Linked DNA regions of Homo sapiens: region 1 is linked to region 2. The links come from fine-mapping of genetic effects on gene expression. Tissue or cell type: pituitary. Region 2 holds a variant in brackets; the other region holds the start of a gene. All regions are shown on one strand. Distances are between the middles of the regions. Region 1 holds the start of THRB-AS2 (THRB antisense RNA 2). Region 2 overlaps THRB (thyroid hormone receptor beta).

Evidence for each region.
Region 1: it holds the start of THRB-AS2, and the variant in region 2 is fine-mapped to the expression of THRB-AS2 in pituitary (GTEx, PIP 0.91).

Annotation. Positions count from the first base shown.
Region 1 is chr3:24,142,759-24,158,744 of GRCh38, forward strand. It overlaps THRB-AS2 (THRB antisense RNA 2), which reads left to right and starts at 8,566. Exons shown (of 4, transcript NR_121667.1): 1 at 8,566-8,642. It overlaps THRB (thyroid hormone receptor beta), which reads right to left. Exons shown (of 11, transcript NM_001354712.2): 6 at 9,632-9,732; 7 at 3,917-4,064; 8 at 743-948. RefSeq lists an enhancer at 188-1,387 and a silencer at 10,256-10,456.
Region 2 is chr3:24,162,570-24,178,555 of GRCh38, forward strand. All of the region lies in intron 5 of THRB (thyroid hormone receptor beta), which reads right to left. It overlaps THRB-AS2 (THRB antisense RNA 2), which reads left to right. Exons shown (of 4, transcript NR_121667.1): 2 at 11,215-11,335; 3 at 15,381-15,443. Among named protein-coding and RNA genes, the nearest start is that of THRB-AS2, 19 kb to the left of the region's middle. The variant C/T (reference allele first, on the strand shown) is at 7,612.

The sequences.
Region 1 (15,986 bases), 20 kb before region 2:
TTTAGCAGTGCGATCCTGGGCAAGCGGCTTAAGGCCTTGGGCTTGGTTTGCATGTCTGTAAAATGGGGATAGTAATTCCAGCTTACCTCAAAACACTATGAAGTCTGAATAAAAAATGAATGGGAAGAATTTTCACAACTGGTAATTTTTATAAGAATATTAAACATCAATATTGCAAGGGTCTGGAAGGTCTTTTTTCTCTACACACTCGTGCCCACCAACCCTATCCCTACTCCCTCATTCCCATTGCCCTTCTTGAGTCAAGCTCATTTAATTTAAGCTAAAAAATTTTGACTTCTGTTGACATAAAAATATACTTGAGGCCTAGAGGCTATTATAAAGGGAATATTTGGGATTGAGTTCAGGGACTAAATATGTATATACTGGGCATCTAAGGAAAGAAATGGGTATAGAAAGTAAAAGATGGCAGACAAAACATTTTACTAATTAGTTGGTCTGGGAGTGGTCTTTCTAACAGTAAAAGCAAACTGATATAATGTGGCCTAAGAAACTGTTTTAGAATTCAGCAAATCACAAAGTAGATGGTAGGAGTGGCCTTTATTCTCACACAGACCTAGACTCAAATCCTAGCTTTGCAAGTTACTCAGCCTCTCAGAGCTACGGTTTCCCTATCAGTAAAATGAGGCAATAACACCAGTATCCCAAGGTGATGAGGACTGAATAAATTGAGGTAGAAAACACTGGCATATAAGTGAAACTGATCTGTGCAAGGAAGCCTTACCAGGAATTTCCGTTTTTGCTTCCAGTGGCTGCCTTGGGCGTTGGTCGCCACATGGGCTTCGGTGACAGTTTTGATGAGCTCCCATTCCTCGTCTGTGGGCTCTGGCTTGTGCCCGATGGACTTCTGCAGCTCTTCCCGCCGTCTTTTCTCCCGGTTCTCCTCTATCAGCTTCCTCTTGGCCAGCCTCTTGCTGTCATCCAGCACCACTGGGAGGGGGAGAAAGATGAGACAAGGCACACAGATGCTCCCAAGATACACAGCAAGCTGCACTTCCTGGAGCCTCAGGAGTGGGACCACTGATGCACAGATGGCTTACTGGGTCCTTCGGGGTGGGTCACACTGGGACAGTTTCTCTCCTCACCAGCAAACTGCCATTGACTAGTCTTGTCCAACATGGTCTCTAGAGCCAAACTCCCCATGACCGGCCAGCTTTTCAAAACAAAGTCCCCAGAGAACCTAGACACTGCGCACTCCAACTCCACAGAAGGTGGTTCTAAAACAGAGTGAAGCAGAGAGGTAAAATCCATACTACCCACAAGATCACAGAGAAATCTGTCCAGCCAGTCATCCGAATTCACTCTCTGGGTTTCTGTCCTCCCCGCTTCCCCTAAAACGGCTCTTAGTAAAGAGAACTTCAGGTTAAAGAAACGTTATGGAATTAAAAAAAGAAACGTTATGGAGCAGTAAGTGGGAGGCTCGTGATCCCTTTTTTTAAGAGGAAAAAGGACCCCAACTCTTCATGGCTCCCTTAAGGGCTAATTGGAATGTGGCTGGGCCTCACCTGGGCCTCAAGGTACTCACTGTACATTATTCTCTACCTGGTCCACCCTCAAGGGTGGTTAAAGAGTCCAGGCTTTGGAATCTAGAAAGACTTGGGTTTGAATTCTGATATTATTACATTCTAGCTGTGTGACCTCTGGCAAGTTCCTTAGGTTCTCTGAGCTTTCATTTCTTCCTATACAAAATGGGCTCAATAATACCCACTTCACAGAGTATTCAATGTGATAATGCATTATAAGTGCTCAGTAAATGCAGTCCTGACTTCTATCATTTGGGTGAAAGGAAAATCAGAAGGGCAGGTAACAAGAAACCTATATTTCTGTGGTCAATTTCCAAAACCAAAACCGTTTCACTAGACTTGGTAACTATCAATGGAATGGAAAGGCTCAGGTTTTACATTGCAGAGTCATAGTATTTTAGAACTGGAAGGGAACTTAGACGTCATCTAGTCCTACTCTGTCTTTTCACAGAAAGAAGAAGAAATTGATCCAGAGAGGTCGTGACTTGCCTAAAGTCACAGAGCAAGTTAATGGCAGAGCCAAGGCAAGACCCAGGACTCCTGACTCCAGTTCTACGACATCACTGTCCTAGGGCCATTTCTTGATGAAGGTGTGACCTGGTAGGAAAAGAAAAAAAGCAGACATAGCAAGAGAAGGAGAACCAAGGTGCCTAGCTAGTCTCCCATTTAAATATTCTAATTTAAAGAGAATATTAAATTCCAGACCATTTAGATTTGATTGGATTGTCAAAGTCATGTGAGCGCTTACAAATGAGGAAAATATGAATGAGCCCTGTTAAGTCATTTTGGTTCAGTTACTAAAGGGAAAGGAGGAATGGTAATAATACCCTCAACCCCTTCCCAAATGCTTCCGGTGTGCCAGGGACTGTTGTATTTGATGAACATTATCTAATTTAATCTTGAAAACAACTCTACAAGGTAGGCAATGATTTCACAGAAGGAAAATCTCAGCTTAATTCCAAAGGTCACACAGCTAGTAAGTGACAGATCTGGGACTCGAACAGAAGTTTTTCTGATTAGAAAGCCTGAGCTCTTAGAATCCCTCACAAGCAAGTAAAGGGCACTCAAAATTTATTTCCATACAGTCTAGATTAACACTGAGTTTTTAAACCTCATAGACACTAGTATCTTAAACTTCTCAATAGAACACTGAAATAGATAATCAATAATAAGTTTGTCATAGTGGCATATCTAAGTATTTGGCTGTAAGTCAATCATATTCACATATCCCTATCAGGCATATTGTTGGCAAGGGCTAAAGGCCTTTAAGAGATAAAGATAAAGAAAATACTCAGCCAGAGGTGGGGATTAACCCAGGATTTCCAGCCTAACACTCTAACATAACCCTCTTCCTTTTTAAAGATTCTCCATTCCTTCTTCTTTAATGGGCAAACCAGAACATTTCACAGATTTTTTTTTCTCAGTGAAAGAACTCTATTTCTCACATAAAATGTGAGTCATGATTACTTCTTTCATCAGGAAAAATCCTCACTGTATTTTCTTTTTTCTTTCTTCATTTTTTATCTTTCTTTTTCTTTTTAATTTTTAACTAATAGTTGGAATCTCTCACTGATGTGCAAAAAATTTATGCCAGTAGAATCATTAATACTGATGCCTGGCAAAAGGGAGGCCACACATTCTGAATGACATGATTCTTATTTTTATGATTAGATTAATTAAAGTGACTGGTGTAAATCCCTCGCACAGTGTGGGGAGAAGAGACCCCAAGGGCTAATCTCGCCACCATATGCTGTAGCACTTTGAAAACTGGGTAGGACGACTTCAGCTCGGAATGTCTTTATTGCTAAAAATATAACAAACAACCAACTGCAGGATGACTCATGCAATAGCACTCAACTTTGCATTCTTCAGAAATTTCTGAACACGATGTTTTCTGCCAGCGCCCCATCTCCAAAAATGTCCATAAAATAAATTCCTGTCTTTGCTCTTGAAAAAATATTAGGACTAGTCCCTGAGGCTCTACCCCATGTGAACACTGTGTATAGAATGATACCTTATCAAGGTAAATGGACCAGACCTCTCATTTGTAATCTCTGTCTCAAACAGAGTGTTGCTAACAACTAGGCCTGCAAATGTGATAGGGATAATTTAACTGCATTTCCTCCTCCATCATCCATACTTTGACAGTTAGGAGGTGGTATGACAGGGTAGGATGGAACCCACCCAGCAATGGCTCCCACCTCCCTTTCAGGGCAAGCCTGGATGTGGGGAGTGAGGGGTGTATGCGAAAGTAAGGTATTCCCTTCTCTGTCTTCTTGGGTTCCTGCCTTCTTTTCTGCCCAGTCGATCTCCTTGAACCAAACTGTTTCCTAATCAACATTCCTTGAATATGAAGCAAGTGAAGATCTACTTACAATCTGTTGCCATGCCAACATAGATGCATTTCTTAAAGCGACATTCCTGGCACTGATTTCGCGTGACTTTGTCTATGACACATTTTCCTTCATATTTACAGGAATAGGATGGATGGAGATTTTTCTGAATGGTTCTTCTAAAGAAACCCTATATGAAAAACAAAGACCCAAGACAACAGTTTCATATTTTCTTGAAATCAGTGATTCTGGAATTTTGTGTCCATATAACTATGAGATGAATCGTTTTGGACCTTAACCTGTTTCTAGGCCTCTAGCTCCACATATTCAAATATAAGACAGTTGGCCCAGAAGGATCTAGAGAGTTCTAAATCTGAGCTGATGATGCCATAGGACTACAGAGTCAACACCTTTTTTTTTGGTCTTTATTCAAGGAAAAGAGGCTAGTAGGAACATCTAGCGCTTGTTTTTATTTTTTCTAAATATTGAATATATAAGTAAATTATACTGTTCTATTTCATATACTGACATAATTGTGTTGCTAAATTAAGCTATGAGGAGTTTTGCTACTTTATACTGAGTAATAAGAGAGCTCCAAGACCAAGAAGAAAGTGAAAAAAATGAAAAGACATGGATACTTGCAATACTTTATTAATTAAAAATCTAATAATTTAGTAATTAAACAGATGTACTAGCTGGCTTCCTGGATTTAGTTTAATACTTGTTTTTGAATCTTGAGACAGCCATGATCAGCTCACTTAGCCTTTCAAACAATAGGACTCAGGGAGTAGAACGCTCCAGGTTTTCTACCAAGTTTTTCCCCATAGCTCATTGCATTGAGGTTTTCCTTTTATAACACTCTTTCTTTGGTATCTGTAGACATACACCTACAGGTTCAATGATTCTTCCTTTCTTAAGGCATGAGAGAGCACCTCTGTAGCATCTGGGGACACTGTTTAGTTCTAGGTTTGGGTGACTTAGGTAATATTCTCAAGAATGTGCAATACTAGAATTTTTCTGGACGTGATCCTCAAGTTGAGGCAACTGTCATCTGTATTGTAGAAGTTAATAACAGCAGTGAGCACTTATTGTGAGGGCACATTGCTAAGTGCTGTAGAAACATTCAATATCCTTCTATCTTCCCTACAATCATGTAAAGGAGGTGCTCTAAATATTTCCATGGTAGGGATTAAAAAAGTAAACCTCAGACAGGTTAAATCGCTTGCCCAAATCACATGGTAAGTACATGTGGGAACTTCAGGTAGGATGGAAACCACCCAGCAATGACCCCCACCTCCCTTGCAACCCAGGAGCGGCACTCCACATCTTACTTGCTTAACTGCTTATATGATGTATAATGAAGTAAATTTTACTGTATTACTTGAATGTTTTAGATCAACAGATTATAAACAGTCCTGCCCCAGCCACTTAAAAAGTTCATTTTAACTGTTGGTAGGATAACAAGGCAAAATGAGTGTTTTAAAATGTAAGAAATTAAAAAAAATTTTTTTTGAGACAGAGTCTCGCTCTGTCACCTAGGCTGGGGTGCAGTGGTGCGATCTTGGCTCACTACAACCTCCACCTCCAGGGTGCAAGTGATTCTCATATCTTAGCATCCAGAGTAGCTGGGATTACAGGCGTGTGCTACCACACCTGGCTAATTTTTGTATTTTTAGTAGAGACGGGGTTTTGCCATGTTGGCCAGGCTGGTCTCGAACTCCTGGCCTTCAGTGATCCGTCCTCCTTGGCCTCCCAAAGTGCTGGGATTATAGGCGTGAGCCACCACGCCTGGCTAATTTTTGTATTTTTAGTAGAGATGCGTTTTTGCCATATTGGCCAGGCTGGTCTCCAACACCTGGCCTCAAGTGATCCGTCTGCCTCCGCCTCCCAAAGTGCTGGGATTACAGGCATGAGCCACTGTTCCTGGTGGCAAAACAAGTTTTGATGGATGTCTTCTGCTAAGGCCTAAAGGGGTCCTCTAACTTTGCTAGATAAATGGTGGGAAATATCAGTTGATCTAGATTCAGCCCAAATTTTTATGATCCCGGTTAATGTTCTTTGGCTTTGATTATATACGTATACCCTATTGCATATTCCTCCTTCAGACACAAAAGCTCTTTCTTATTATGAAAATGCCCGAGGTAGGATTTTATATTGGGCAAAGCAGAATAAAATAGAAAAACATCAGGAATAACTGAGACTAACAGACTTGATTTTGGGGCGTATATGCAAATCCCTTATCATTTCCATTGTTCAAGTTCTAACAGAAAACTGTCAATATTATATTTGGGTTCTGTGTTCCTAAGCACTTGAGTCCATTAATTTCAGTGATGTTCATACACTGTTACAAGATTCACTCATTCACACGCAGGGCAGTTGTTGGAGATGTTGGCAATGATTTCCTGGGTGTGCAGGGTGGGCAAATCTTGCCAAAGCATGAATGTCAGAGCATGCCATGAGAGTGAAAAACAAGTTTCCCTGCAAACCTAGCTTTTCTCTCTGCTACCCTCTGACCAAGGAGGGCAAAGGAGAACTAAAGAAACCCAGAGATTCCTGGCAAGAAGATGTATGTCACAGACAGGGAGGGGAGGGGTAGGGTAGCACGCCTCCTTCTGGAGGAAACAATAATTTCCTAGAGGTAGAAATACCAAAGTCCAAGACATCCAGTAAGAATGCTGACGGCTTACTAGGATAGGAAGATTGTTAGTCTATCTGAAGTTGGGGAGACCCTTGTCTCCCTCATACTCTGATGCTGACTCATGTTCAGGGGTGGGTTTAGGGCAAGGAGTACATTGACCAGTAAGACCACGCTAAGCAGAGAATGAGGTGTGACACACCAGACACTCCAAAAAGTCACTCTGTTCACTTTTTATTGGGATGAATGAAATAATTTATACTTTGCTTATTTCCACAAAAGAGTTGAGATAGCTAGCTCTACTATACACTATGCCATCTTTTCTGTGGCCTATCTCTGATGACTTGTCTTGGGCACTTCATGGACCAAATCCTTTTAAAGATGTTGGCCTTTCTTTTTTTTGTTTTTTCTTGATTTTCTTCTTAAAATGTTGGCCTTTCTTAAGCTATAATTAAAGCATATTTTGATGTATGATAAGGAACCACTTCATTTTAAAAAGTAACAGAAATTAACTCTTGGAAGTGGACTTGAAGACATTTAAAACAGTCTACTTATTTTAAAAAAATCCTTTTAGAGATGAGCTGACAAAAGAGATGCCCTGGGCAATAAATAAGGACATATATTTCATTGATGATTTGTTGGTAAGAAGAGGTCTTGCTTTTATAAATCAATATCAGACATGTTTCTTTGTATTCTGAGAAGAACTGTATCCATTTTTTAGTACTTTGAGATGATTCACTGATCAATGTGAAAAGGAGATAACTCACTCTTCTAGTTCACTATTCAGGCAGCTGTTGAAAAGCTTTGATTCTTTCTCTAAAAATAGTTTGCTGTGGGACAGTATCAATATCCTTTCTACAAAAGATGTGTAAAAACTTGGATATCACAACAGACATGACATCTCCAAAAGATTTCACTCTTCTCAGGGTGAAAACTGGCAAAAAGGATTCTCTCCATACACATTGCAAGTATGGGGTAGAAATATTTTTAAATTACAGGTTTGAATAAACGATATAGGAAACAATTAACCCTTTCATCTTTCACCACTCTTAAAAACCGTGTTTCACTTGAAAAACTCGTTTGTCTTTTTCCAAGATGCTTTGTCATTATATTAAGTGATCCGCACAAGTACCCTGGGAAGGCTCTTCTCTGATTTTACAATGAAGGCAACCCTAGAAACAGGATTCTGACCTGAGACAAAGTCACAGAATCTGAAAAAAAATCTAGATTTTGCTACACGATTTCTTCTTTTAAGAAAACCTCAGCTGATCCAGGCTCCAAACATCCTGTGATCTAGGGAAAACAGGCTAGTTGATTTCTTGATCATCCTGAAGACATATGTGAGGCAGGGATATAGGTTAATAGGCTCAATTCTCTCTTTGTTTAAGTCAGTCACTAATAACGTATTGTCCTCTGTAAGGCACATTCACTCTTTAGAGTCATTTTGGGGAATTAAGTATTAAATTGAATTCCATATTAAATGGAATCAGGATCTCTCTCCCAGAATTCGAAATTTCCCATTATGCGCCGATTTAGAAGAATCTCAGTGCTGCAACTAAGGTAGGGAAAGCCTTATGAATTGGGACTAATTTAGAGAAAAGTCTAGTTTGAATTATCGAACTTTTGGAATGAGAGTAGGTACCTAAAGTTATGTAGTTTTATTACTTTCAAATCAAGCCAATAAAACTACTTTCAAGAGACTGTCTGCAAGTCTCTAATTAATAAATAGCCAGAACTTACTTGTAATTAGATTCATTAAATTCCCTAAGACATTATTTTCATAGATGTAATGGCAACCTTTAGCCCAGTCTTTGTTAAAGGACTACGAATTCCAGATCAAAGGGGTCTGGATAAATAAGAACATGTTACACCACATTCCAAAAAGCAAGTCTTGCAACCTTAGAAATTACCCCTTTCCAATGGATGTATTATCTCAACATTTTTAGCAGCCTTCTCCTAAATGTTTCCTAATGTCACGTACAAAAACATAGGGAATTTGCATGGAAAATCTTCCACTAGGGAAAAGGAAAACACCTTAATTTGAAACTGAGCTAACATGTTGATTTGGGGGCTTTACGAGCAAGGGTATGAACAAAGCGGGGCAGTTGGAGAAGCGGAAGAAGAGAAAAAGAGGTAAGGTGGATGAGAGAGGAGGGAAGGTGAAATGTTTTATACATTTAATACAATTTTTGCTTTAGGGTTTACATCTTGATAATTTAGTTTTAAATATAAGAGGTAAAAAAGACAAGGTATTTAACAAGTAAACAATTTTAAAAGTCCTTCCCTGACTTTAAATACTTCTTTATTTATGAAACATTAGCTGAACAGACACGAAATACAGCACTGGGTCAAGCTTTTTCCTTTATGGTAGATTTCATTTTCAAGGCTAGATTGTTGGACCAAAAGATATTTTCCAGAAACCTTATCTGAATTTTGTTGATGAAGTCTTGTAAGTAGGCCAATTTAGGTTCAGTTTCAGGAAGTGAATGGACTGATCACTGGTATATTCTTGTCAAGTATTTCCTGCAGATAGGACTGTACAGCACAAAATTAGCCGATGGATGACCAGAATCTACTTAGTCACTGCAGGCTGTGCGAAAAGCCAACTTGGATAATTTCAGAACATAACTGAATCTAAGTAGCCTCAAAGATATTCCCTATTGGAACCCTTGAAAATGAGCATATTCACTCAGACTAACAGCAGAAAACAGCCTGTGGTAGAGTAAACTCTGTCTCCTCCAACACTGTAGATAAAACAAGAAGAGAAACAGTCATTTCTCGGGATGACAACATGTTAAAAAGGACCTATGCTTTTTAAACCCAAAGTAAGAGTTTTATTAATTTCTTTTTATTTTATTGATTCTCTTCCTGTTTTAAAAACACTTGCAGAAGTAAAGAAACCAGACATTACACTCATTTAGTTATTTATGATTTGGGAAAAAAATTCAGTTCTTGAACATGTCAAAAATGAAGAGCACAACCAGACACCTGGATGATCACAGACCATGGATGTTAGAATTTGATTTTAATTTGAATTTAAACTTAACATTGCATTCTGGAAGAGGACTGGGAGGGGACTGGAGCTGGGCTAAGCTCTGTGCTTGTGGACCCAGGGCAATTACCTTGCAGCCTTCACACGTGATACAGCGGTAGTGATACCCGGTGGCTTTGTCACCACACACTACACAGAGCTCGTCCTTGTCTAAGTAACTGGGGATGTACCCTGTGAAGGAAATAAAAGAAGGAATATTAAAAAATAATATGTTAACGTCAAAGAGACACTATAGCTAAGGTTGCTAGGCCAGAGACAAAATTGGCTTGCCAGGAAGAGGTAACAACAGTAAAGACTTAGTGAAACCAAACGGTAAGAATTTTATACTCATAGAGTTAACATAGGCCCAGGATTTCAGAATGCCTTAGAAATAGCTCACACCTATAATCCCAGCACTTTGGGAGGCCCAGGCAGGTGGATCACCTGGGGTCAGGAGTTCAAGACCAGCCTGGCCAACATGGCAAAACCCTCTCTCTACTAAAAATACAAATAATTAGCCGGGCATGGTGACAGGCACCTGTAATCCCAGCTACTCAGGAGGCTGAGGCAAGATAATCACTTGAACCCAGGAGGCAGAGGTTGCAGTGAGCTGAGATTGTGCCACTGCACTCCAGCCTGGGCGACAAGAGCGAAATTCTGCCAAAAAAAAAAAAAGAAAGAAAGAAAGAAAGAAAGAAAGAAAGAAAGATAGCTGTGATCACTTGCTGTGCAGGTGGGAATGGCAGGAAGGCTGTAGAGCCAGTGACTCAAGCAGAGAGGCCAGGATTTGAGCACTGTGAGTTCTAGATAACACAATCTATTTAACAAGGCTTATTTCAAAACCTGTTTTCACAAGATTTGATCCACTTTGGAATCACAGTACCATGCAATGAATTCAGAAAACTTTATAGCTGGAAAGGTCCCGGGAGATGACGAAGTCCTTGTAAGGTGAAGAAACAGGCCTGCAGAGGTTTGGCCTTCCTCAGGGTCTCACTGGAAATTACAGGCAGGACTAAAACCCCAGTCTCTTAATTTCTAGCCCTCCAGTGTAATATGCTGGTCTTTTTCTAAAAATGGAGAGTTGACTTTAAGTAGAATGAATTTTGCCACCTAAAAAAGTTAGGTAAACTTGTGATATTATGATATGCAATCCAACAACACTGGATAGTGTGAAATGACAGAGGTTTTGTTTATTAAGAAAAAAGGAAAATCCAACTATGATAACTCTCTTTTTTAGTGGACAATGAGTTTATTAGTTTAAATTCCTTGACTCAGGAAGCTAAAAAGCACAAAAGCAGAAGCCTCCTGTTTCCCTCCTGTCTTTGCTCCTTCAGCTTCCTGTGGAGAGGATGCCCAGACACAAGATGCTGATTCAGGAGGGCAGGTTCATTCTCCCCTCTATCAATGGTTTACCATTGATAAATTATGTGATATATAGAATCACACAGCTTCACATAAGACCAAACAATCAAAATGAGGCAGGATTGGTTGGGATGTGAAGAAGGAAGAGGCTGAGAAACAATCCTTTCTCCCTATCATGGTCCTTATGAAGTTTTTTGACTCAGTTCAGCAAAGTCTTCTTTGTTCCAATAAAGATTAGCTAGGTTGAAATGACTGATGCCTTACTGTGTATCTTACCGTGACATTTCATAGACCTTTTATTAAACTAGGTCACTGAAGTCTTGCTTTTCAGAAAAAAAGCCATTAAGGAAACAGAATGAAATAAATCCTTTTCATAATTTCTTAGAAATTATGTTGCTCCAACTTTAATTTAGAAAAATGTTCCTTCTTGGGAGGCAGATAATTGACTTGAAAGTGAGGTTTAGTAATGTACAGGATTATATTTTTAAATATCACAGCTTTTCTTAGTTTACTTTTGCATCATGCAAACCATGATTCATCTGTTGAGTTCACTGCAAGGGTTTCAAAACTCTTGTCAGTCATTTTTAAAAAGGGAATTCTGGGAAGGATCTGGGCAGAGAAAAAAGGGAACTAGAATGCTTTGCGCGTTCATTCAGTCATTTATCTATGAATTCAGAAAACATTTATTTAGCATCTACATGTGCTTAGCATTGTTCTAGGTGCTGAAAATACAAAAATGAGTAAGACATGGTTTCTTCCTTTGTAAACTCATAAGCTGAGTTCTGTTTCTGTAGCCTTGGTCATTCTTCAATGAGAAAAAGAGAGGTGAAAATGAAGGGAAGAACATGAAAAGATGCTCAACATCATTGCAGGGAAATGCAAATCAAAACCACAATGAGATACCACTTTACACTCACTAGTATGGTTTTAACAAAAATGACACAGTCACAAGTGTTGGTAAGGAGGTGTGCTCATGTGCTTTTGTGTGCATATAAAGACCTACTTATAAAACACAAAGTAACTTTTAAACCACAAAGTAACTCAATTAGGAAAACAGGCACCTTCCTGGTAAAGGCAGATGGAATATACAGACCCATACTGTCAAAAAAGCTACATCTGAACCTCTTATACCTCGAGGTTATACACAATTAATCCAACAGAATGAAGACTTTCAAGTTCTTAGTATCAAGTATGGAATGCAGAGATAAGGGAAAAAGAGGTACAAGTCATTTCTGTCTAATCTCAGGTATGAGAACCAATTGTGATACACTTGAACACTGCTGTACTTGTGGGACATGACTTGGGAGGGGTCAAAACAAGGTGTCCAAGAACATTAACCAGAGTTGGGAAGATGCAGGTAGTTCCCTCTCACCTCATACTACCCCAGCCTGTCTCATGAGACCTGCTGGCTTTATCTTTTGGCATTGGCAGCCAGACACTGAAGATTTATTCCTACCTGTAGTTCAACAATTTATGTAGATGGTGTTTAAGGTTCTTGTGGAATCCAACAATAATTCAATCAGTGACTGGAATGGACTCCTTTCATTTACTGACTGCTAGGCTGAGAGGTGGTGTGCTTTACTCTCTTATTTCTCCTAGACTATCTTCTTCATGGGTGGAGGTGATTAAATGACTTTAGTTAAATCATCAAAACTTCTACAGAAACATCTACTTAAGTTGGTGGCAGCTACTTACATGATCATACTAGTGCACCCCACCCCTTGCTTTCTTTTCTGTAACATATTAACTCTGAACCATCTTATTTATCCAAAACAGTCACCACAGGCAATGATACATCAATCATTATGCCTAAGTCCATTATTCTTCATTAAATAACTTCCATCAGGGAATAATGTCCCACACATAGTGACTAGGTAGGTGAGGATTCTCTTAAGGTTACTGAACATGATTGACAACATTACATACTAACCAATTCTCCTAGAGAACTTAACCATTTCTTGCTGTTGTATTTCCTGTTGTATTTTAGTGTCTCCATCATTTTCCTTTGTCATACTCACCAAATGAGTTACACAATGGTCAGTATGCCAAACTAAGGAAAATGCACATGTATCATTAGTTTTGTTGCCAAGAGTGGACACTGATGAGTGTCATAATGTCAGCGTTGGATTCTGCCTAGAAACAAATACTACAGACACAATCCTGGAAGCTACGACTGTTCATGTCAGGAACTGCATCTGCTAGTTGTCCCAGGTGACTGCTAAAGAAGCCTGGTCAATAACCCTCCAGAAAAAATTAAGGTCCATGACAATATATGATAGTTCAAAAATGATATATTTCCCTCAGCTCTTGTCTGCTCAGATGTATTATTTTTCAGATTAATACATTATGCTGCCACTTTATCAAGCATATTTTTATAAAAGCAAACTCCATCTGTTCAACAAAGGACTTGAGATTTTTTCAGTTGACATTTGGCAATGTCTGGTTAATTGCTAAGTATTATCTTGAATATCTTACAGTTAATGCTATTTAAAAAATATTCTCTGAGCGACTTGTCATGTAGAAGGGGAAAGTTTTGTACATTTGCACTACAAAGGATGCAACAGGTAGTAAGCTTGCCTTCTTGGTTGAAAACAGATTCAATGCTTTCTTCCCTATGGGCAAGATCAGAAGGCTGGCTAGTTTAATTCTTTTGAGTGAATTATAACAGCATCTCAGGTCCTAGGAGGAGAAACACTGGTTCCTCTTGTCACCTTGGCAGATACATGGCCCTTAGGGAATAGAATATAAAGCAGATTAATCTTGAAAGTAGATCTAAAATATAAGGTGCTGCCTAGGAGAGCAGAAGTAGCAGCATGTGAGAAGAGCTGAGTTCAGAGATCTTTTCCAAACTGGCAAATCTTATCATCTGTATAAGACCACTTGCCTAGCAGAACCAGTCCTGGCATCTTAAGGGAGGGGCTGTGGTTTGCGGTAGTGGGAAATACTTTGGGTAGCTCAGAGAAGTGAAGAAGTTCCATGTTGCTGATTCATCTTGTAGAGCTATCAACTCAGAGCCAGTAGGTATCTGATCTTGGGACGGGATAGAGGATGAGACTGTATTTTGTCACCCTTCAGGAAGCTAAGTCACTAGCATGCTTAGTCACTCTTCTGATTTTATACTGAACCTCCTCAGTTCATCCTGCAGCTCAGACCTGATGATTTAAGCTTGTTTTCCCCACCAGCACCTTCCCTATGTCATTTCTTGACAAACTTAAAAACCTTGAAAGGGTTATCCTTTAGCCTTTCCCCAACATACGAATCCTGATTCCTTTTATATTTAATTCTTGGCATTAGGTACCAAGCTTTATATCATGTTAATCTTTAACCCTGTGATAGACACTATATTAAATTAAACCATGCATTCATCCATTTGTTTATTTAACAGCATGTATGGGTGTACTGTGTGGAAGACACTTGGTACAAACTTGAAACAGCATTAACTTTGGAGGCCTTCATCCATTGCCCTCTGCAAATTATTAGCAGAGCTGCCCCAGGGGCTCCCACTTCACACAATTCACAATCTTTCCTCAGAACATCCACTGTTTTCCCACCCTGCCTACCCCTGCTTGGAGTCTTGGAGTCTCTTTCTTTACACTTTGCCCTCTGGCTGGCTGGGCCCTGGTGTTGGGGGACAGCAGACAATGGCTCGCCAGGCTTTGAACACTGAAGCACTGGTGGGCGGAGGAGGGGCGAGCAGGAGGACCAAGTAGAGGTGTCAATCTAGAAAAGGGGATGAGGATATGAGGCCAAAGGACCCTGGATTCTCATCGGAGGCTTTAGTGCAGAAAAAGGGACAACATGAGTTTTGGATCATTTCTTCTGATTCAAGAATTCCTGAAACTAAGACATATTTTTAAATTACAATTTTTTTTAACTTTTATTTTTTGAGACAGGGACTCACTTCTGTCACCCGGACTGGAGTGCAGTGGCATGACCATGGCTCACTGGAGCCTTGAACTCCTGGGCCCAAGCAGTCCTCCCAGCTCAGCTTCCTGAGTAGCTGGGACTACAGGTGCATGGTCACCACACCTGGCTAATTTTGAAGTTGTTTCGTAGAGATGGGGTCTTGCTATGTTTCCCAGGCTGGTCTTGAGCTCCTGGTTCAAACCAGCCTCCCGTCTTGGCCTCCCAGAGTGTTGGGACTACAGGCATGAGCCACAGTGCTCAGCCTATTTTTTAATTTTTAGGGCCAGGTTTGGGCATAGTATAGTTTAATGTATAAGAAGTACCTAGTGAAATGTTCCTTTTGCCGTCCCTGTACATTCAGATCCTTAATAGCTGACATAACCTTTCAATCTACAATTAGAGGGAAAACACTTGAAGATGCAAACCACTAAGAAAGGGAATACGTTGATATAATGCGTTTGAGTTGGAATGTTAATCAAAAGGGCACACATTCTGGCAGTCTACAACATTTGGCTTGCAGAGTGTTTTTAAAAATCGTAGCAAATTTTTAAAACTAGGAAATTTCATAAAACATACAGAATTCTTGCTTCATGTGAAAAACAGGAGGAACTGGCAATACTGAACCCAAATTCTCACAGTGTAACGATCAACTGAACTAGAAAGGTAGCCCTACCTCCCAAGAAACGGACATCCTTTTTAGGCTCCACAGTCAGAACCTCTCCTGATTGTGTGCATCAGTTGCTATTTATTTTTGTTCTTGCATTATGCCTTTTCATAAATAAAGAAATATTTCACATAATTCTTTATCTTTATCAAGAGTGGAAAAACAAAAGTAGTTTGAGAAAAATGATAACTTTTTTTTTTTTTGGGGGGAGGGTGGGGGACGAGTTTCACTCTTGTTGACCAGGCTGGAGTGCAATGGCACGATCTCGGCTCGCTGCAGCTTCCACCTCCTGGGTTCAAGTGATTCTCCTGCCTCAGCCTCCTGAGTCACTGGGATTACAGGTGCCTGCCACCACGCCCAGCTATTATTTGTTATTTTTAGTAGAGACGGGGTTTTGTCATGTTGGCCAGGCTGGTCTCGAAATCCTGATCTCAGGTAGTCTACCTGCCTCGGCCTCCCAAGGTGCTGGGATTATAGGCGTGAGCCACTGCTCCCGGCCTGAGAACATATTTCT
Region 2 (15,986 bases):
CTCAATTCTTGAAGCTTTATTTTAAATGTGATTCAATGAACTGACATCTGACTCTTCCTTAGTTCGTGTTCTTAATGCTTCCAGAACTTGATAACTTATTCTGTCGGCTATGAATGCAAAAAAAAAAAAAAAACTTTGTAGAAAAACAATCCAAGGGAAACTAAAAGTTATTCTAAAGTCTACCAATTAAGATAACCATTCTTAACATTGGGTAGTGTAGCCTTCCTTTATTTCACCAGTTTGTACCTATAATTTTTTTATAAGATTGTAATTTTTTTTTACAAGATTCTCTGTATATTAGAAAATAAAGGCTAGGAAATAAGCCATCCTTAAAAAAATAAAGAAAAAGTTAACACAGCTGCAGTATTGGAGTTTATAAAGCTGTAATGACAGCCATGAACACAGATGAAGCAATTATGAACTTTTATCTATTGTGAATAGATAAAAATCCAATTGGAAAATGAGGCCTACCCCACTGAACACCTGTTTATGGTCTTAATTTTGCCTTAACGAGACACTACTGATGTCATTCAACACAACAAAAATCAATAGTGGATCAATATGGATAAACATGTTGGGTACAACCTTTTGTCCTAAGAGACAGTTAACAGCTGGGTTTAGTTTTACTGGGATTTACTCGAAGACTTGTAAAAGTAAATAATGGTGCATTTAAGAATATTTGCCTGTTTTGATTTAGTGAGTTTGGCAGGTGGCGGTGGCCTTTCAATGACATATGGCTTTGAAATTACATCAATATATGCATACAATGTGTCTTTTCCTTTAGTTCATGCATCAAATTAATTAATAAAGAACCCCTGGTTTAACATTTTATAAGCAAATATTCCCCAGTGTTGGTTGAAGAAAATACAGTGAAAAGATAAAAGAGAAAAGAGCCTGAAACGTTCTGCAGGAATTTTTAAGAACAGCAGAATGAGCACATAGATTGACAGGTACCAATATTTTCTTACAACACTACAAAAGGCATATCCAAGTATGTTTAATGAGGCAATGTTAATTTCTTCTTTTCAAAGTTAAATTACTTATACTATTAAATGAAATAGCACATGTTCAATGTACCTCAAATGTTTCCATTAGGGGACTTACCCTGTGTATCCCTTGTAATAAATGAGATTCTGATGACCTTCAAAAGGATGCAAAACTCTATATTTATAAATAAAAATCAAGATGAGAAACTCTAAATATATTTCATGCTGTAATCCCCTTAATATTTCATGATTGGAAGTTATAGAATAACATTATATATAGTAAAAATTACAGATTCTAGTTTTTGTTTTTATAAAATTTTGTTCATTTGTTTTCATAACAGACTACTTTCAATTATAAAGTCACATTAAGAAAAGCAAATGATAAATTTTATAGAAACCACAACTAAATAAACCACATTATGTTTTAAGATTAATTTAACAGAGAAATTTACCTTTGAGGATCAAAGGGCATCATGTTTTTGTAAATTATAGAAACTCGTAAATTTGGTTCTCTATGCAATATCCTATAGATTATATACAAAAGCATGAGATTCTGGCATATCTGCACTAGCATTTACACTATCTTCAAAAGCATTCCTATCTGGCAGTTGCTACTTAATGTTCTACCTGTTTGCCTCCCTTATTTTATTTTTCAGTATCTTATTTTTCAGTAATACAAGAAATGTTCTATTGACAGAAATTTAAATAGCATTATAAAGCCACAGTGTCTATTAAGATAAATGGATATCGTACTGGTTTTAATATTGGCTATTTTGAAGTGTGTTTCACTTGCTTTCATAAAGAGAATTCACTTGATATGATTACAGACATGTTCAACTTTAGGGACAAAATAGCAAAGTAAAGTTTCTCAGTTTTTGAGTTTTACATCTTACAGTTTGACATGGTTACAAATAGATTCTTTACTGTTTACATGGATAAATAAATACATTAAAATGAACATTTACAGATCCTAGCAAATCAACATTAGTATAGTACTGTTAAAGAAATCACTAAATCACTAAATATTTTACTAGTTAACTAGTCAACTAAAATAAACTTTCAAAATGAAGTGCCAAGGAAAAGTCAAATGAGTTTTTAATCTGAACCTGAACTAGAGAGAATTATCTCACTTCAAACACCACAACACCTACCCGCCAGAAGGAAACCTTTCACATATTTTCTTTCGCAAAGAAGCCAACAATAGTCACTTTGGGCAATATATACACACACATGCAAAATACAGAAAGGCAACTCACTCCAGCTTTCAAAGATGAAGAAAAAAAGTGCTTGGAAATCTTGATGTTCACAGAGTCCTTCAATCACCTAGCAACCCCTCTTACTGCCGTTTTTAATTTCAAATATTTAGCGTTCAAATTCAAAGATTTGACGAAGCTGATGTAAACTGTAACTTTAAAATGAAACGAAAACAAACAGTGAAACTTTGAACAAATTTAAGCAAAATGGTCCCTACCTTTTTTTTGAGAATACGATGGCGACTGCACTTGAGAAAAAGTAGGCTTTTCTTCAGTGAAATATTCAGGTTGGCTGTATTGATTCAGGGCCATGTCCAAGTCAGAGTCCTTGCTTTTAAACATGTTTCCAGGGTAACTACAGGTATAAGGCTGATTCACTGCCCAGGCCTGTTCCATATATATGTTGTTACTGGGCACAGCCTGAGCATCGCAACCGCTGTAACCCGGACTATCTTCAAAATACGCGTAATAATCAGTGGACTGCATGTAGCAATTGCTGCCGGCAGCTGGGTGCACTTCATATATTTCTTGCATACAGTAGTTCATTTTGTTTCCCTGGTTCAGTTTCTAGTTTACATATACACACAGTCTACGCATGCATTCTCCAGCCCCATACACCCTGAGAGCTGGGCATATACGCAGAGAAGCATACATACATACACATGAAACGCGAAGGGAAGATGAATAAACACCACCACCAACACAGCAACCCAGCCTGCTTTACTTTGTAATAGCACCTGATGTGCTAAAATCCTATTTAGACCGAGGTGTCTTTTGAGCTCTTCTGCCATCCAAACATATTGGAAAGCAGATTTATGACTATCAAAGGTCTTAAGCTGTGCATGCAGCTAGTTAATTCCTGGGGAAGATGGCAGGCAGGTAGGAATGACCTCCACCCAGATAGGGAAGTGACAGCGAGAATGTTACTCTGAAGCTGCTAAGATGCATTTTATATGCTGTTTTTAACCCCTTTCAACATGATTATAAAACGATTACTCATTGTTATGTCATTTTGGTTGACAGCTTAAGCATGAAACATTATAAAGACATCTTAGAGAATATCCTTGGATACAAAGAAAATCCTAAAATCAATAATCTAGTTTATTAGCATGAACCAGAGAAAATCCAGTAGTAATGAGCCTGATGACTGACTGACTCCAAAACATTAATCTAGCTGTGCAAATATTGGTGGTTGAATCTGTTGTTGAATGTTACTGACTGGGTTTTCATACTAGGATCCAACCATCTTCCCATGACACATAGGTCCCGCTGGTTTTTAAAACATGCCAAGGAAGTACACGGTTGAAAATGCTGCTGATGTCTGCAAGTGAGTTTTATTCTGTTCCTTGCGCATGATTATTTTCTACTTCATAAGCACTAATCTACATGAGACCTAAAGCTTACATTAACTGTTCAATTCTGTAATTTATGTTTTCTTTATAAAGGCATGAGAGACTGTATGCCAATGCCCCTATATGAGGAATACCCCTATTATATAGCAGCTTTCCTTTTCTGTTGGTGCTTAACAGTACTCTGATCAGTAGTGCGTGGAAAACTGTAAACACTTACCACTTTATTCCCATTCAAATCTGCTTTTGAGATTATTTTCAAGATTTAATGTGATTTAAGTGGTATTCATGTACTTACTTAAAGATAGTGATCAAAAAGGGAACAGCATTTTCTGTAAGAATCATCATATCTTTTAACTAAGGAGTTAACAAATACCAAATTAGATTGTGAATGCTTGCTAGGATGATTACTAATGGTATTTTCTCCCTGTGGATGGTGGCCAGTGTGTGCATGTCACATATATGCATAGTTGTAGATCATGACATCAGGAAGGGCGGATGCTGCTCTTCTACACTAGGGATTCCTTCCGTTTCTTAGGCAGCTTGTTTTCAGGGCTCGGCCTCAGGTGGTTACGTTTACATTTGGCTTCCTGCTGGTCCATGAGCATGTGACCTTGTTGGTATTTGTCTCTAAAGGACCATCAACAATGTAATACTGTAATTTTCAACAGTGAGACCTTTGCTTTGGACATGTAGCTCCAGTCATCAATTGCAACGTGGAATTCTGGGACAGGGACATATGGCAGAAGTAAGGAGGGTATTACAGTCATTCAACAAATTATGGGGTGTCTGTTAAGTACAAAGCAAGGAGTTGGTGGCTACAGAGATGGCTGTTCAGAAAAAAAAAATCACCGTCTCTGTCAATAAGTAGCTTAATAGCATGTATATTAAATATACAGTCAAGTGGACCACCATTGTGCTGTCTTTAATTGCTGACTTTTTATAAATGTAGTAAAGGAGCCATAGACTCAAGGGAAAAGGTGGGGAATTGTAGAATGAGCTAAAGATGTGACAAAATTAGAAAAGAGACCCAGGCAGACCTATGTGGAGGATAGTAATAAGACTCCTTTAAAAACTGCAACTGATATAAAACAAGCAAAAGCATGTTCGTCAGTTGGTATATATTTGAACCTGGAAAATGAATCACAATATCCTAGAAAGCATGAAAAGTTACCATAAGGAATAAAGAACACAGCTAACATTTTAATCGTGTTTTTACTTTCTGATTACCATTAAAACAAATGAAAGATTTATTCAGTGTTACTAAGAACACATACACAATATTACAATTAACATTTTCTCCCTACTGGAAATGTCAAAACATTTCATTGGAAGCAATAACTATTTTCTGAAAACCCCAGGAAAAAGGATCCAGGCCTTATGTTTTTTTGTCTGATGTCATTTATTTATCTCAAATTTCCCAAGCCTAATCTGAAAATTAACCTTTCAATAAAGCAGTTTTCTTTTTTGGCAAATGCACATGTTCCAAAGTCTCTTTTTCTGGTTAAGAGCTGCGTGTTGAATCCATTCGATTTTGCAGTTTTGCCCAGTGCATTTCCTGGCTCCCTCTCTTTCTCATTAAAGGCAGAAATCCAAGCAATTTCTTGCTTTTCATCAGTAACAATATCAACGAAAATCAGAGACTCAACTTTTATTCCAAAGGAATACTTAAAAATAATTTTCAGAAATCTCTAAATATGCTTGAAAAATTGGAGAGTTATTCTCCCCTGGAACTGGATATAAATACTGCAGTGAAAAAGGAAAGAATAGCTGCTGAAAAACTTTCTCTCTCTTTTTACTAAACGTCAGAAAGGTCAACAGTATTTTTATTGAATTTAAAAAATCCTGAATTCCCTCAGAAATCTTTAAATTAAAAAAAGTTTCAAAACATATTTAAGAGAGCTCACTTCCTCACGAATGTTTATTGTTTGGAGAAAAGAGAACAAAACATTCTGAAACACTCCTCATACCAAGTGGGAATACTCTTTACTTGTAACGAATGCACAAAACTTTCATTACTATTAGTTGAAAATGGAGCTCAACACTTACATTGAATTTGAAATATGGCCCCTCACATCCTGATAGAAGCAATCACATCTGTCACCTGTGATTCAGTCTTGCATGCTTCTTTGTAAAGTCAGTAAAGCAATCTAAACATATTATGTGTCACAAATGGGGTAAGCTTCAGTGAGGTTGTTGTCTTATTTTCTTGATTGCCTGCTCTAATTATTTAAAGAGCAGCTTAAGAGTTATTTCACTTATAGTGCATCCAACTGCCTTAAATAAACTCAGGAGGACTTTAATAATTCCGATTAGAAGTGTTTCAATCAATAATATATATATATATATATATGCGCCTAGGTGTGACTTATAGAAAGTCCGCTTTAATAATTATGGGTGAAACTTTAGCATCAAGATTTTTAAAAGAAGTTCCTGAGGTTATTTACATAAGTAGCAACATTTGAGAACCACTTGTTCTACTAGGTGTCTGACCCCAGTCCCTTCACCAAGGAGCAGGAAATCCTGTGTACTAACTCCTTTTTCTTCATTTGCAGCTTCACTACATATTTCCCTTAGTTCTTAGCAATTTACCCTCCACACTTCAACCAGGCTTCACCTGCCTTTGAGTTAACCAGTCAAGCAGAGGAGGCAGCACAAAAGGAGGCACGCTAGGAAAGAACGAAATACAAGGAGAAGTGTAATAAACTTGGCATGGGGACACAGGAGTAATCTGCCTAGAGTGCCAGGGATGGCTTCACAGAAGAGGTGACCAGTGAGCTGGAAGAGTATGTAGGACATCATCAGTGGAGGCCTAAGATATGAAATGGCTGAGCAGAAATGTCTTAGGAAGGGTGCTATCAACTAACTGTACTTGCAAAAATACACATAAAGAAAGATAATTGATAAGCTTTAAAGCAACTGGTCAGAGCCTTTTAACTTCCACTCTAATGATTGTTCTCACTTTCTGTTTTAGTAATTGAACCGCTAAATTTTAGTTGGGCTCATGGCCCCTGAGAAAAAAACTATACGTCCCAGTTTCCCCTTTGTCAATATGTGTCTGTGTGACTAACTTCTGGCCAACGAGATGTAATAGAAGAAGTGTTGCAAGGCAATTTCTAGGAAACTTAAAAGACACATTAAAAGACAACTGGTGCATTCCATTTGCCTCTACTTTGTTTTGACTTTCTGCTCCCTGCAATGACTGGAGCCCCAGCCATCATTTTGGTCCATGAGAGTGAGGACTATACTCTAGGGATTACGGAAGAATGATCTGGAAAATTCTAGGTTGCTGAAATACACAGAATTGCCATACTAGCACTGGACTGCCAACTTCTGGACTTCTTTTTTTCTCGAGACAGAAATAAACTTATTTAGGTCACAGTTTTCTTATTTGTAAAACAGATAACGGTAGTCACTTCATTGGTTATTGTGAAGATTAAGTGAGTTTATATAAGTAAAGCACTTAGAATGATGACTGGCCTAGTAAGTGACATAATTATATATACATAATAATTATAATAATATATATTATATATATATATTATAATATATATCTCTTAGGTCTTGTCTTGGGCTACTTCTCAGTCTATACTCTAGGTCACAGGTCAGCAATCTTCAGCCTGTGGGCCAAACATGACCCACCACCTGTTTCGTAAATAAAGTTTACTGGAATACAGCTTTTATTTGTTACATATTGCCTGTGGCTGCTTTTGTGCTACCATGGCAGAGTTGAGTAGTTGCAAGAGAGACCTTATAGCCTGCTGAAAATATTTACCACCTGGTATTTTGGAGAAAAAGTTTGCCAAGCCCTGCTCTAGCTGATCTCATCCTGTCTCACAGCTTTAAATACTAATTATATGCAACATCCATGTGGATATCTCCATCGCAGATGTCACCTCTGAAACCAGGATCCTATATCCAACCATCAACTTGACATCTCCATTTGCCCAACCAGGGCATCTCCAACTTAATTCTTTCTAAAACCTGTTCCTCTCACAGTAGTCCCATCTTGGCACCACCATC[C/T]ACCTGGGAGCTTAAGCAAATAACCTTCAAGACAACTCTTTTCTTCCCTTCACTACCTAAATCCAATTCATTAGCAAGTTCATTGGTTCTTCCTCCAAAATATATGTTTAATCCAACTACTTCCTTCTCTCCGCTGCCATCTCGCAGTCCAATCCATCATCATCTCCTAACTGGACTCCCTTCTGGCTTTCTCATTAGCTTTGGCCCACTTTAATATTTTCTTGACACAGCCACCAAAGAGTGATGTTTTACAGGCTGCAAATCAGATAATGTTTCTTCCTTGTTTAAAACCTTCAGTGGCTTTGTACTGTATTTAGAACAAAATCCAAACCTCTACCAAAAGGTGGTCCTTCCCCACTACTTATCAACCCTCCTGCTTCCTTGACATAAACCAAAATAGCATCCTTATTATTCCTTGAGCACTCCAAGTTTTTGCCTGCCTCAATTCAAGGACGCTGCACATGTTCTTCTGTCTGTCTGATATATTCCTCCCTTTAGCTCTTCACAGGACAGAGCCCTTCTCATTTGTTTGGATGGAGCCTAAGTGACATTTTGTGTGTCAGGAACCTCTTGATACCATCAGAGGCCTGAAAGCCCTGACACTCTTCATATACATAACAACACTTGCTCTCTCAGAAAAAAGATGGAGGACTCTCTGCACCAAAATCCATGTGCATTTAAAAAAAAAAAAGATAAAATGTTACATATTGCAATAAGTGGATTATCTTAGGCTTGAAAGTTTCTGGGAGATATCTGTCTGTCTAAAATCGATCCAGTTTGTTCTTTTATATCTTCGTCACAAGAGAACAGAGATAGAGCTGTTTATTAAACTTACCTCAGTTGAGGTTATGGAATTACAAGTAACCATCATCAGTGCCAATCATCTCTGCCCCAAAAGAGATGATAAAAAGGATTGAGACATTTGCTGCCCTTTGAAGTAACTACTCAAATTGAGGAAAGTTTCCTTTAAAAATGTAAAGAAGCATGAGTCTCGATCTTACCACTGAAGTGCTGAAAGCACATCTAATACATTTTGGCGGAAACCAAAGAGGTGCACAAAAACTTTTTGACCATGCTTTCTTGGATTGTTGAGGTCTGGAATCTTCGGACTCATTGCTTTTGAAAAGGACTTCAAATCAGTTCAACTCCAGAGATGTGAGCAGGGCAAGCTCCTGGGACTTCCGGAGCACCCAACTTTAAAGCAGCCCTCCCTCCAGACGCTAACACATATGGAACACTTATGGAGGCTGAGACCTGTTTTATGTTTTCTTAGGATCCTAGGATATTACAGCAGGAACTTCTGAGCTATGCATTCCACATGTATTTTATCTGATTATGAGAAAACTGAATCCCAAGGGGATGAAGTGACTTGTCACATGGTAGGTGGTAGCCGTTGAGGCCGTGACCCACTCCTGCTTTGACTGTATCATTTCTCCTATTGTAGGTGGGGCCTTTATTTTCCCACCTGGGCCTAGTGTTCTAGGGTTAAAAAGGTGCTGTGGAGGAAAGGGAGTAAAGGAACTTGTCTTAGGCCTGGGGATTGACTGTCCCTCCTCAGCATTTCTGCCAAATAATATAAAGCCTTGAGTCACTAGATCATGCAAAACTCTAACCATTTTAGAAACTTTTACTTCCTCAGTCCTGGGAGTGTTAATTAGCATGGCTCCTCCTCCCCTACCACTACTGTAATGGTGTAATTCTTAATAAATGAACACCATGGCTACTGGGTTAATATTCAGATGGTGTTCCCTAAGTGGTCCCATAATACAGTCCCAAGAGATGATCTAAAGAGAAAACAATAAAAATAAACTTTATAATCAAATGAGTTTGGGAAATGACACATTAATGCTCCTCTCTTGGAGATTCACACACACACAACTTTGAATGACTTTGTATAACAGCATTTCCTAAACATTTCTGATCATAGAACCCTGTGTGTATCTTGTAACATTTGTTACAAGTGTTCCATGAAACATACTTTGAAAAACCTAGTCATCTGCTCTGTTGGATATATATGCTGGAGCTTAAGGCACGGATACATAACAGTGCATTTCTCAGATTACACACCAAGAACAGAGAGAAGAAATCTGCTGAAGGGGAGTGTCCTTTTTAGGGTCTTTACCAACGAGGAAAGCTGCCGGCCAGAAGAGGCAGGCTGGACACATGGAAATGCAAATCCCCAGGTGGGCACAGGACAAGACCAGGGCCTCTTGGGCTCTTGAATTAAGTCTGTTTCAGTAGGAATAGAAACTCAAAGCTCTTCTCTTTTAAAACATATTGTTAACTGAATTTGTTTCTAATTTTTTCCCTTGGCATTTCATAAAAGCTTTTGATAGTTCTAGCCCATTACAGCTCTACAAAAGGGCACTAAGGGGAGACTTTTGTTCACAATCGATCACCAAGCAGAATATGCTTTTACAAAAATGTGCTTGAAAAAGTGACAGTGTTTTACTAGTGAAAAGGGAATGGATTCTGATCTGGTGCAGTGGAAAAAAATTGGCTCTGATTAGAACATTGAAGCAGGAACAAGACAGTCTCAGGGACCAAGCTGATGGAAGCAGGCCCAGTAATTGAACTGAGAGATTTCCAAAGGGCAAGAGACTCTCATCAAGGCAGTCCTGGTGGCTTCCTCAACCTGGACACCCTCTTTGTGGGTCTAAATTTTGGAGTTGCATGTTTTATTTCACAAAGGTGGAATAATTGCCTCAGCACATTAATGCAAAAGATACCACAAACTTAGCTACAGCAGCCTTTTACTAGATGAAATATGTCAATTTCTAGGATGAGCAAGTTAAAAAGAACAGCCTTTTGTGGTTCCACAAAGATTATAAAAGAGTCCAAAATTCTTAGGTCAGTGATTCTCAAATGGTGGTTTCTGAACCAGCAGCATTAGCATATCCTGGAACTTCTTAGAAATGCAAATTCTGCAGCCCACCCCAGACCAACTGGATCGTAAACTCTGGGGGGTGGGGACAGCAAGCCCTCCAGGGGATTCTGATACTAGCCGAAGTTTGAGAACCACTGTCTTAGTAAAGGCTGAAGTTGCTCTAGCTAGTCTGTGTCAACTTTTCTAGCATCACTGGCTGTTACCTTGAGCCCTGGATTCTCAAAACTTCTGTCTTCTTCTGTTGGTTTTCTCCTGGTCCTGGCAGGTGTATTGACTTTGTCCTTGATCTAAAATGTTTTAGGCCTAATTAGGCTAGGAAGAACGGCGTGCTCCATGTGGCCAATGCAGCTCAATTTTCCTGGCCTCTACTTTGAGTTTTGGTGACCATGCACTACCAGTACCATAATACACAACAAACTTTATCACTGTCACTCCAGACTGTCAACAGGAGCAGTGATATCTGACATTTTTGGGTCTTTGGACATAATACTATCACAACAGCACAAGCTCTCTGCTTCCACCCAACTCCACAGCCAAACCTATTGATGGTATACCAGAAACCTCCATGTCATACAGCCTTTTCCCACATGTCTCCTCTATCCCTGGACAGTTCTTTTCAGTCATCTTCAAGGGATGATCTCCTCATCTGTCTTTTACAATTGGCCATAACTTTGGTTCTATTCTCAGCCCTCTTCTAACCATACATATTCTTCCAGGTGAAGCCATCAGTGTCTACAGCTTCAGCTATTGCCCGTGTGCAGATGGTGCTTAATCTCTCTTGTGCCTTCCAGACCTGCATTCCAGCCACCTACCAAACCCCTTTCTGTGGATGCCAAGGTACCTCACATACCAATTCTAAACTCAGTGTGTCAGATTCTGTGTTGGGTGTTTATATGCATCATCTTATTTAAACATCACAATAGTCCTACAGCAGCTATGACTGGCCACATTTTAAAAAAAATTTTTATTTTACTTCAAGTTCTGGGATACATGTGCAGGACGTGCAGGTTTGTTACATAGGTATACGTGTGCCATGGTGGTTTGCTGCACCTGTCAACCTGTCATCTACGTGTTAAGCCGGGCATGCATTAGGTATTTGTCCTAATGTAGCCACATTTTTTTAATAGATGAAAAAAAATCTATTTGTCTGAAGTGGCACAATGGTAATTTGAAGAGTGAGGATTCAAATCCAGATCTGTTCAAGTAGAAATTACATACTTGGACTTTTCGTTACAGCTTGCTTATCTCTCTGTAGCTTTGCCACAGCCTCTAGTCACAAAGGGCCAACTATTCTATGCTGTTACTATTTTAATTAAACTAATCATTTCATTTTTAAGAGAAAACTTGGCTAACCCAAGAGGTTTCTATACCTCTCATCTTACTCTGATCTTTCCATTCATCCACCACGTTGCAGCTAGGGGAATTGATTTTAAAGGAGAATCTAAAGCATGTCACCTGTTACCCCTCCCACAACCCCAATCCTAGCTTGCAATAATCTTTAGTTTTTAAGATAAAGCTTAAAGACTTAGAAGTCTTTTGCAATGTAGCTCCTGACTACTTTCTACTCTTATCTCTTGCCACTTTCTCATATGACCTGAATGCTGGCCATTTGCAGTTTTGTTGAACAGCATCTCTCTGGCTTGGTCACACACAGTTTCCTGCGTACAGTGGCCCATGCACTGTGCTAACCACTTTCCTATAGATTATATCATTTAAGCCTCACAGCAATCCTGCTTGTAGACATGACTGTTCCTGTTTTAGAGATAAGGAAACTGAGACTCAGGGAGGTTCCATAACTTGCCCACAGTCATAAGACTGATAAGTGGTATTCTCAATGCATGCAAATACCATATTTATGTCCAAAATGGTATGTCTCTGTTTTGCTGCCCTTATGCCATTTAGCAGCTTACGCTGGAGTCTGGGAAACTGTAGGGCTATAGTGACTGACATGCAGTGATTCTTCGTGGTTTGTCATCTGTCCTCTTTGATGAGTCCAGAAACTTAATCATGTCAGACAAGGGAATTTATACACTCAGAAAATTACTAAACAATCTTTGCTGGATGTTTAGTCCATGAAATCCTCTTCTGCATATTGAGAAACAATATATAGTCTGATTTCAGCCTAAATTCAAGATTTGTTCCATTTAAGTTTTCAAGTAATGGGTTGTAGGGTCCAAAATTCCCAGACACGTTTTTACTATTCCAAGCCCTTTCTTGCATAGTATTTCCAGTGGATGGAACAGTGCTGATTAAAGACTGGAGTCCTAGCATAGTGTCTTTCACATAAGAACTCTGGGATAACGATCAAGGGTTTTATTCTGACTGATATTTCCCAAGAAGACCAAAGGCAAATCATAAAGTCTTCTTGTGCTTTGAGAGAATGAGATACTATTCAAAAAGAGCTCAGGATCCACACCAAAAGAAAAATGCACATATACAAAAGTGAACAGAATAGTATTCGTAAGGCTGGAGATTGAAAGAAAAGTGAAAAATTTGAAATATACTTCAGACCACTGTTATCATCATTGAAGTCTTCTATTTGCTAAGCCAACAGTGGAATGTCTGCTCTTTTTTATAAATGAACATTTGATTCAAAACCAACCTTAATGAATCTAATATAGTCTGATGTGGCTTGAATATCATGGCATAAAAAAATGCAAAAATATTTCAGTTTTGGTGTACCTTTAATTAGACAATTGGCTACATAATAATGATGAGGTCTATTGCATGGTGTCTTTATAAACAATAAGATTGCTTGGGAAGGTATTTCCATTCATTTTGCACAGTGGAAAACTGAGGGGTGCTTTTCTTACTGTACATAATTACAAAGGGAAAAGGTTAGTATTGAAATTTAGGCCCTCAAGTTACTATTCTAGAAATCACTTTTCCCACTTCCACGCTATGCTTTTCTAAGTGGAAAATTATTTTATTGTTTTTGAATTTCTGGGTGACTAATAATGTGTTTCAACACAAATTCTAAGATCACTTCAATGATTTATCTGTTTTTCCAAAGATGTGCTTAATTTAATGTCACATTGTATATTTATTATAGTCAATATGTTTCCTTATATCTCTAGAAAAAAATGCTCTTCGATATTTTGTTTTTATAAATATCATTTATGTTTTGCTTGAATTTCACATAGCAACTCATTTAATGTATTTTTTAATTTAATCATTAGATAAAGTAGATATGTTTCCCCTTAATGTGTTAAGATAATTATTTCACTGTAATTCACAATGATCGACTTGATGTGAAAAGTTGAGTGGTTGTTTAAGTGGAATAATTTTGACATTTAACAGCTACAGTATACTTTCTTTATCCCAGAATAGCATGTCAGAGATTAATTTTAAAACAAATTTCCCTAATAATAGGAATAATGAATGAACAATTGAATCACCTGCATTTACTTTGCTTTTTCACCCTTAAGAACAACTAGTGCAAAATTTAGACTATGCCACAGCTGATGTAGTTTCAAAAGATTTATTCTTTGTCAGTAAAGGCTCCAGTCCTACATTATACTTGAAAATGTTATAAAAATAATAAAAGGTAAAAAGTTCAAAGTACTGATACATGCTACATTGTGGGTGAATCTCAAAAACAGTATACTAAGAGAAAGATGCCAGTCATACAAGACCACGTATTGTAGCATTCCACTTTTGTTAAGCTTCAGAAAAGGCAAATCTACAGGGACTGAAAGAAAAATGGTTGCCAGAGGCTGGGCACAGGAATGGGGAGTAACTGTAAACGACTCAAAGTTTCTTTTGGGATGATGGAAATGTTCTAAAATAAGATCCTGATGATGGTTGCATGCCTCTGTAAATATACTAACAATCATTGAACTATACACTTAAAACAGGGGAATTTGATGGCATGTAAATTATATCTCAGTGAAGCTTTACAAAAATAGATGCAGGGCTACAAACAGCTTGAGTTAATTAAGACTGATTCTCAAAATAAAATAAAGTTTACATCATTTATGTATCAATACCATGTATGTTATTCTCCCAGATCTAATGGAGATACACTATAGAAGGAAGACCTGGCCCTGACTCTGAAATTTGCAATCAAACTAAAAATACCTATCAGCAAGCAGAAAACAGTATCCCACACACTGAATACTTCAAGTGTTAAGTGAACATGGAGTAAAATGGAATCATTATTTTTGAAACAACGTAGGTTACATTCTTCATTATTCTTTCCTAAGACAAATGCCAGCCAGCCAATAGAATTTTCATCATCGCTTGGTTGTCAACAGAGTTACTGCTCATTGCAAGCCTAGACTCGAAGCTCTGCCAACATTTTCTGTTTGAAAAATCCTACGAAAAAAGGGGTGTGCATTTAACTTTTTATTCTCAGCATATAGTACAGTATTGGACACACAGAACACACTCAATTTAAAACATTGTCAGTATAAATTATGACGAATTCACCATCTGCAGTGAATCAAACAGGCATGTTCAGAAGCCACAATTAAATAAGGCAGAACACAATGAATACTTGTACAAAATTTCATCACAGCATTAAAAACAAAAATCCAAATTCATTCTGATGGGGCATGGGGGCGCACAGAGGAAGCGATGTCTGAATTGGGCCTTGAAGGATGAGTAGAGAAAAAGGATTTGTAAAAGTTTGCAAAAATAGGATCTACTTCATGTTGGTGCCCTTGAGATCCAAATCCAGAAATGGCAAATTGAAATTCTTCATTTTATTTCAAATGTCAAAATGTTCTAGAAAGTTACACAATAAATATCAAGGTTATCAAGACATACTCTGATCTTAGTTGTTTTGTAATGTAATATGATTGGATTGTGGAAAGAAAAGAATGTTTAGTTAAAATATGAGACGAGAATAAAGTGGCTGTGTCTTTTTTTTAATCTTCAGAAAAGTCTTCAGACCGTGGACAATGTGCTCTTTGCCCCTATTATGGAGAAAGGTGTTCCCTAGGTAAGTATCATCCTATGGGTCCAACCTTAAAAATGTCACAGGGGACAGAGAAACAAGTAACTTTTTCTTCTGACATTCACCTTTAGAGCATTGAATAGCTGCTTATTAGAGGACTTTAGAAAATATACTTTCTTCTAACCCAGTAAGATAATGAGCCAGCTCACCAGTAAAGATCTAGGCCTGCTCACACTAAGATATAAGTGGTTTGGAAGATTGAAAACTATTTCTGCATCATATAATTAAATTCAAAATTTTATAGGAACAAACACCGTATCATACAATTTTTTAGTATCTCTGTCCAAAATGTATAATCTGATTCTAATCATGAGGAAAGGCTGGGTGCGGTGGCTCATGCCTGTAACCCAGAGCAAAGGAGGCCAAGGTGGGTAAATCACTTTAGGCCAGGAGTTCAGGGCTGCAGTGAGCTATTAGCTCACCACTGCACTCCAGCTTGGGCAACAAAGTGAGACCTTGTCTAAAAAAAATCATGAGGAAACATCCATCAAACTTAAATTAAGGGACATTCCAAAATAATAATCAGCC